Homo sapiens: one gene and its partner. The protein of the gene in region 1 purifies or fractionates together with the protein of each later gene. This does not show direct contact. Each region holds a gene or a part of one and is shown on either strand. Other genes may lie near its edges.

Evidence for each region.
Region 2: the proteins of RALA (region 1) and EXOC3 purify together in Homo sapiens (affinity purification with western blotting; one study listed by BioGRID). This does not show direct contact.

The regions. Positions count from the first base shown.
Region 1 is NC_000007.14:39,626,449-39,630,101, reverse strand, and holds part of RALA (ras-related protein Ral-A precursor), read right to left. Parts: intron 1-3,653. UniProt on the Homo sapiens protein: Multifunctional GTPase involved in a variety of cellular processes including gene expression, cell migration, cell proliferation, oncogenic transformation and membrane trafficking.
Region 2 is NC_000005.10:456,523-460,175, forward strand, and holds part of EXOC3 (exocyst complex component 3), read left to right. Parts: intron 1-366; coding exon 367-484; intron 485-1,377; coding exon 1,378-1,503; intron 1,504-2,836; coding exon 2,837-2,937; intron 2,938-3,653. UniProt on the Homo sapiens protein: Component of the exocyst complex involved in the docking of exocytic vesicles with fusion sites on the plasma membrane.

The DNA of each region.
Region 1 (3,653 bases):
ATTGCACCGCTGCACTCCAGCCTGGAGGGTCCAGCAAGACTCTGTCTCAAAAAAAAGAAAAAAAGTAAAAGAAAGCTCGGCATGGTGGCTCACGCCTGTAATCCTAGCACTTGGGGAGGCTGAGGTGGACGGATCACGAGGTCAGGAGTTTGAGACCAGCCTGACCAACATGGTGAAACCCCATCTCTACTAAAAATACAAAATTAGGGTCAGGCACGGTGGCTCATGCCTGTAATCCCAACACTTTTGGAGGCCGAGGCAGGTGGATCACGAGGTCAGGAGATCGAGACCATCCTGGCTAACACGGTGAAACCCCATCTCTACTAAAAGTACAAAAAATTAGCCAGGCGTGGTGGCACGCGCCTGTAGTCCCAGCTACTCGGGAGGCTGAGGCAGGAAAATCGCTTGAACCTAGGAGGCAGAGGTTGCAGTGAGCTGAGATGGCGCCACTGTACTCCAGCCTGGCAGAGTGAGACCCCATCTCAAAATAAATAAATAAATACATACACACATACAAAAACGTGCTAGGCGTGGTGGCGTGCACCTGTAATCCCAGCTACTCAGGAGGCTGAGGCAGGAGAATCGCTTGAACCTGGGAGGCAGAGGTTGCAGTGAGCAGAGATCGTGCCACTGCACTCCAGCCTGGGCGACAGAGCGAAACTCCATCTCAAAAAGGAAAAAGAAAAGAAAAGAAAGTGAGCAAATAATATGAACAATAAAAATAAATATTAAAATGACCCTTAAACATATGAAAACATGTTCAATTCACTTGTAATAGAAGTACAAATGGAAAATACACTGAGATACAATTTCTTACCTATTAGATCAGCACAAATTCAAAAGCTGACAAAACACTGCTGGTGAGGCTGTGAGGAAATAAGCACTCTACTCTCATACACTGCTGGTAGGAATGCAAAATAGTATAACCCCACAGGATGAGGAGTTTGACAGTACCTAACAACTCTACATATGCATTTATCCTGAAGATGTATCTCTCCAACAATACAAAGATACATGTACACAAAGTTTTTCACTGTAACATCATTTGTAATTGCAAAATATTAGATATTACTTAAATGTTCAAACAGGACATTAGTCGAGAAAACTATGGTACATACACGATAGCAGTTAAGAATGAAAGTTACTGATTTTAGTTTATGTATTTTATCTTTTCACACAGCTACTGACTTGTTAGGAGATACATACTTATTAAGTTGTTCAGACCTAATTACTTAATAAATTAAACTGGCCAGGCATGGTTGCTGACGCCTGTAATCCCAGCACTTTGGGAGGCTGAGGCACATGGCTCACGAGGTCAGGAGTTCGAGACCAGCCTGGCCAGCATGGTGAAACCCCGTCTCTACTAAAAATACAAAAAATTAGCCAGGCATGGTGCCGCGTGCCTGTAATCCCAGCTACTCGGGAGGCTGAGGCAGGAGAATTGCTTGAACCTGGGAGGTGGAGGCGGCAGTGAGCCGAAATCGCGCCACTGCACTCCAGCACGGGTGAAAGAGCGAGACTCCGTCTCAAAAAACAAAAAACAAAAAAATTAAACTGTTAGGTGTTTCTTTTGACCTAGGGATGCTGTGAAAAAAATTACTGCGATAATAAGGGTGCCATGAATTGAGAAAGTTTGGGCACTTGACTGATAAAGGCCTACGAAGAAGGCCTTTAAGAGAGAGAAAGAATGTGTGTGTGTGTGTGTGTGTGTGTGTGTGTGTGTGTAGTTATGAGGTTACTGTGGACTGCTGTCAACAAAATTTACAATAGGCTAATGAAAGTACTCTCTCCAGTGTAGTTAAGAGCTGTAACAGATATTATGACAGCACATAAGAGAAGCAATCAGCCCAGTCTTAAAGGTTTTTTGTTTTTTGTTTTTTGAGGGATGGGATCCAGAGAGAGAACCTAATTGTAATTTTTTGGAGAATTATAACCTAAACTGAGTTCTGAAGGACCAGTAGGAGTATACTAGATTAGGGGAAGGAAGAGAGGCTAGAATTCCAGGAAGAGGAAATGGAGGACTGAGTAAACAAACACTAGCATTCCAGAAGCTGGGTATTGGTAGAACAAAAGATCATCCAAGAAGAGAGATAAGGCTAAAGGGTTAGGTAAGAAAAAAAATGAAAAATATGAAAGATAAAGGGGAAAAAAGAGAGTTAGGTAAGGAGCACATCTTGAAGGTTTTGTATATGAGATTAAGGATAAATGGAGTTTGAATTTTATTAATGGGCAAAAAAGAGCCACAAGAGGATTTTAAGCAGAGAAATATCACCATTGTTCTAAGCAAGAATGGGAAAAGTATCAGATGGGTTCCAACCATAGGCTAGAAGGCTGCTGTAGTAATCCAGAATATCTAGACAGGGCAGCTGAACTCAGTGTTTGGTCACGCAGTGTGGCAACCTCCACTTTTAATGGAGTACTATGTTAGCTTCTCAACTACATAAGAAAACAGATCCTGTGGCTTAGATGACCATAATCATAACTTTTGGAAACTGGGGGATCTTTGCCCACCTTCCCAATAAATCTGGGAGTATACGCCATTTTATAATCTAACTATGTCTTATTGTCCAAAATAACATTACCAAACCCTGACATTTAGTTTCAAAAGTAAATTCAGCAATAAAATTGGATCCCAGACTTTAAGGAGACTATGTATGTCAGTGTTACATCTATTGCATCTAATATAGGACCCTAGCTGTGAAGGCCTTTAAGAATAGTATAATTTTATGGAAGCATGCCTTTTTTGGCTTGTAAAGACTACCCTCTTGACTTTCAGAAACTAAGTCATCACCTTCACGTATAATTAAATCAAAGATGCAAATTCTCACCTAAAATTTACTCATACATATTTTAGAAACCCATAGAACTTTAATTTCTTTTTTTCTATACGGCAACCCAAATCCTTATGAATGCGATAAGGTAATAAGAAAGATGTCTTAAAGAAAAAACAGAATAACTGTTACTTATGGGGGCCAGACAATCAGCTGTTTTTTACTTAAGGGTACATCTTTTAAAAAAAAAAAAGAGAGAGAGAGAGAGATGGACACATTCTTCAAATTAAGCCTATTTAAAAGTGCATTTTAAAAAGTGCACAGGCTTAGGAGGGAAGAGAATTCTACCAGCACTGAATAGCAGCTAAACCCTTACAAGACTTCTGCCACTTTTAAGCCTCCATCTTAAACCCAGAGAAAATGATTAATGGTCTCAAACGGTTAAAAACAGACCAAGCACATCTCTGCTTCTTTTACCATTCTTTCTACTGTCCCCCATAGCTTCTCCCCCATTTCCATTAGTGAAAGAACGAACTAAAAAAAATGTGATTTCAAGGAAAGGTCACTACAAATAGATTTATGGTATTCCTCTCAAATAGGGACGATTCTGTTACTTTAAAAAGCACTAATCAAACACCAGAATTGAGTCCAAATACTTTACCGGGACACCCACGGGAAAAATGCCCAACCATTTTTCCATCATGGCACACATGGACGGTGATAACACTGTATTTGTAGGCACGCTGAAGATAAAAGAGAAGAATGGCTGCTGCTTGAGGCCACCTGGCCAGGACTGCTGGCAACCCCAGGCCACACTTGATGTCCAAGAGAGAGGAATCAGTATCTTCACCTTCCTGAAGCTCCAGTTCCAGCTCAGTCAGA
Region 2 (3,653 bases), on another chromosome or scaffold:
TTCCACATTTGAGCCCCAGCACCTCATGAAGCTGGCGCAGCAGGGTGAAGCTGGGGTTGGAGGGACTCAAGTGGTCTCGGAGCCAGTGGGTGATGCCACAGAGACCCCAAAGCCCTCGGCCCCTGCCCTGCACTTTCCCCGGTTGGAGGGACTCACGCAGTCTGGGAGCCAGTGGGGTGATGCCACAGAGACCCCAAAGCCCTCGGCCCCTGCCCTGCACTTTCCCCTGAGCTGTGGGCCGGCTGTGACCAGGAAGTCTCCAGGGTGGTGGACATTCATGTGTCAAGTGAAACAGTCTCGGCACACTTGGGCATGCTCTTCTGTGTCTGTCGTGGTTTGTCACTCACATTCCTGGTTCCCCCATAGTACTGAGATGATGAGGAACGTGGAGCTGGCCCCGGAAGTGGATGTCGGCACCCTGGAGCCATTGCTTTCTCCACACGTGGTCTCTGAGCTGCTTGACACGTACATGTCCACGCTCACTGTGAGTAGGGCTGGCCTGCGTGCCACAGACCACCGTGCTGGTTATATGAGTAACTAGGGCTTGGCAGCAGGCAGGAGGCAGGGGGGAAATGCCTTAGCGTTGACTTCCTAGGATGCATTGCTCAGTTGCCCGGGCTCTGCTTCCAGGCCTTGACAGGTCAGTTTGCTAGAAGAGGAGAATGGCCCCTTCTCTGGGCCTGGATCTGAAGCTTGTCCTCTGCTGGAGACGTGAGCCTGTGCCCTACTCGGCAGGCTGGCCAGGGCCCAGAACGTCTGAACCGTGTGTGGCAGCACCTGCCAGGCTCTCGGCTCTGAGTCCCATGGTTGGGGGGGTCCGTCAAGGACCAAAGGGCGAGTCCATTTGCAGCCTGGTGACCACCAGGTGGTCTCAGAGTGAGAAGAGGAGGTCAGCAGGGTCTGCTTCTTAGACAAGGGTGCGTCCACCTAGCAAGGCAGCATTATGACCAGAAGCCGAGGTGTCCTCAGGAGCTGGGGAAGGAGCGCTGTCTTCTCTTGGGACGTGAGCTGCTGTGGTTGCTGAGTCTGGGCATGGGAACAGGCCTGACCGGACCTGGTCGGCCTCATTCTCTGTGCACCTGGGATTCAGCGGCCTTGTCCTCCAGCATGAGGTGCAGCCAAAAGGGCATCTAGTTTCTTCTCCCTCTTTATCTGTACCAAGGGTTCCAGTTAAACCCCTGCGGGCTGCTGTGGTCACTGCCTCCCATGGGGGTGGCTCCTGGGTCCCTGCTCTGGAGTCCTCATTTGAGAAAGAGGACGCTGGTGCCCTGTGTCTGGTTTGTGGAGCTTGTGCATGCAACTGACCAGGTAATTGGCATGACCCTCAGGCACCTGCTCTTCTCTCTTCTCTTCTCCATGATGCTGAACTTTCTTTAGTCAAACATCATCGCCTGGCTGCGGAAAGCGCTGGAGACAGACAAGAAAGACTGGGTCAAAGAGACAGAGCCAGAAGCCGACCAGGACGGGTACTACCAGACCACACTCCCTGCCATTGTCTTCCAGGTACCACCTGCAGGGGACTGGCACAGTTCCGTTTCCTAGGTGGATAGTGGGACCTGTAGGTTTTACAAAGTGACACAGATACCTGGGATCTTCATCCACAGAGTGTAGTAAAAATATTGAGAGCCCTGCCTGGTGCATCTAAGTCCTCTCCTCTCTCTGTCTCTTACTCTCTGGAGCTGCAGAAACCTGGGATGATACTTACCAAATAGTTTTGCCCAAGGTCACTTTACTTTTCTGACCTGGTCTTTATGGGTTTGGACTACAGCCTAATTGTATGTTATTTATGTGCGACTTTCAAATGTGAGTTTGTTTGGTCGATATCCAGGATTTGTCCTAAAAAATGGCACATGATTGAGTTTAAACAGGTGGATTTTGGGAGCGTCCATTATTTTTTTTGAGACGGAGTCTCACTCTGTTGCCCAGGCTGGAGTGCGGTAGCACAATCTTGGCTTACTGCAATCTCTACCTCCTGGGTCAAGGCGTCCATTAGCTTTTAAAGTTGCTTTCCTGTTCATTGGTTAAGGTTCTAAGTATTAGACCGACCTGCATTTTTACCACGGATTCACTTTCCAACGCCCAAGCCTCACTAGGTGTTAGAACCGGTGTGTTCTTACCACGGATTCACTTTCCAGTGTCCGACCGCCCTGTGTCCCGTTTTTCCTGCTCTTTTTTTCTTTTGGCACATCATGTGTTTTAATTTGAGTGGCATTGCTGAGGGATGGAGCCCCGTTGTGTTAGAATCCTCACTCAGGACTCTAGTTAGGCAGGAGTGAGGGCTGGCGGGTGACATTTCTCTCTGAATGATACCGTTAGTTATTGACAGGCTAGTCCAAACCCTTTCCTTTGTTTGGAAACAGATGCCGTGAGAAACTGTGAGGAGAGCTCTGTCCCCTTGCCCTTCCTCTGCCTGGGTCAGCTCCTGGCAGGGCCTGGCACACCCCAGGTCCAGATTCTTAGGAACTCTGCATCATGACAGTCATGGGGCCAGGGAGGGTGAGTCAGGTGCCTGAGGGGCGCCATCCCGGGTGGGGCCTCACTCCACACATTAAAACTCCAGTCACGTAGTGTGAGGACAGACATGGCCCCCGTGGGAGAAACCAGTTTGCCAGGAATTAAGAAATGAGTCACTTGGTACTTTCCCAGGTGAGAAAGTTGTTTTTTTTTTTTTTAAACTAACTTTGTTATTTTTCACGTGGTTTCATTTTTTTTTTCTCTGAATTTGGACTATCCTAAATGCCAGTTAGCAGATGGAGGTTTCATATAACAGCAAACCTGCACTCTTAGTATACTCCTGTAAGATTATACCAGAATTCATAAGTTCTCTGATTTTTAGATGTTTGAACAGAATCTTCAAGTTGCTGCTCAGATAAGTGAAGATTTGAAAACAAAGGTACTAGTTTTATGTCTTCAGCAGATGAATTCTTTCCTAAGCAGGTATGTCTTTCTGCCAGTGTGCTAATGTACACATTGAATGTTTTTAAAAATTAGAAGCAAAAATTTTTTGATCCTACTATGCCTGTTACTAAGAAGAAATTAAGCCGGTAGATTCCCCACGTGTCACTCCTGTGTTCTTCAAAAGCAAAGGGAGGGAGCGGAGCTTCTGGATCATCTTCCCCTTGAGTGGACCACACACCCCCTTGGGCTCCCAGAGCTGATGTGTTGTGACGTCCTTAGCGATGCGCCGGATGACACCAACTCTGTTGGAGTCAGGCTCCTCCTGTTGCCTGTTCTGAACTTCCTTGGGGTGGGGGTGGCGACTCCTGCCGCAGTGCCTACTTCGTAGTGGGGAGGGCGTCCTCGGCTGAGCCGGCCCTCCTCAGAAGGGCTCCAGGCAGCCATGACCTGGCACGCCACCCTCCCCATGAGTTGTTGATAATTTTCAAACCTATACAGATGTGGAAAAGAGTTTAAAAAACTGTGTTCACCCATCGTGCAGTCCAGAAGCCATCCCCTCCAAAGCCCCCTTGCCTAATCTGTTCTCCCCTGCCCATTCCACTCTCTCTGCTGAAGTACCTTCAGGCAAACCCCGGGCGCTGTGGCATGGTATTTGCGACCCTCTCTGAAGCCACTGCAGTGCCATCAAGTCAGAGACACATGCACGGTGACTCCGTGGGGTCATCCGATGCCAAGTCTGCGTTTGGGTTGTATCT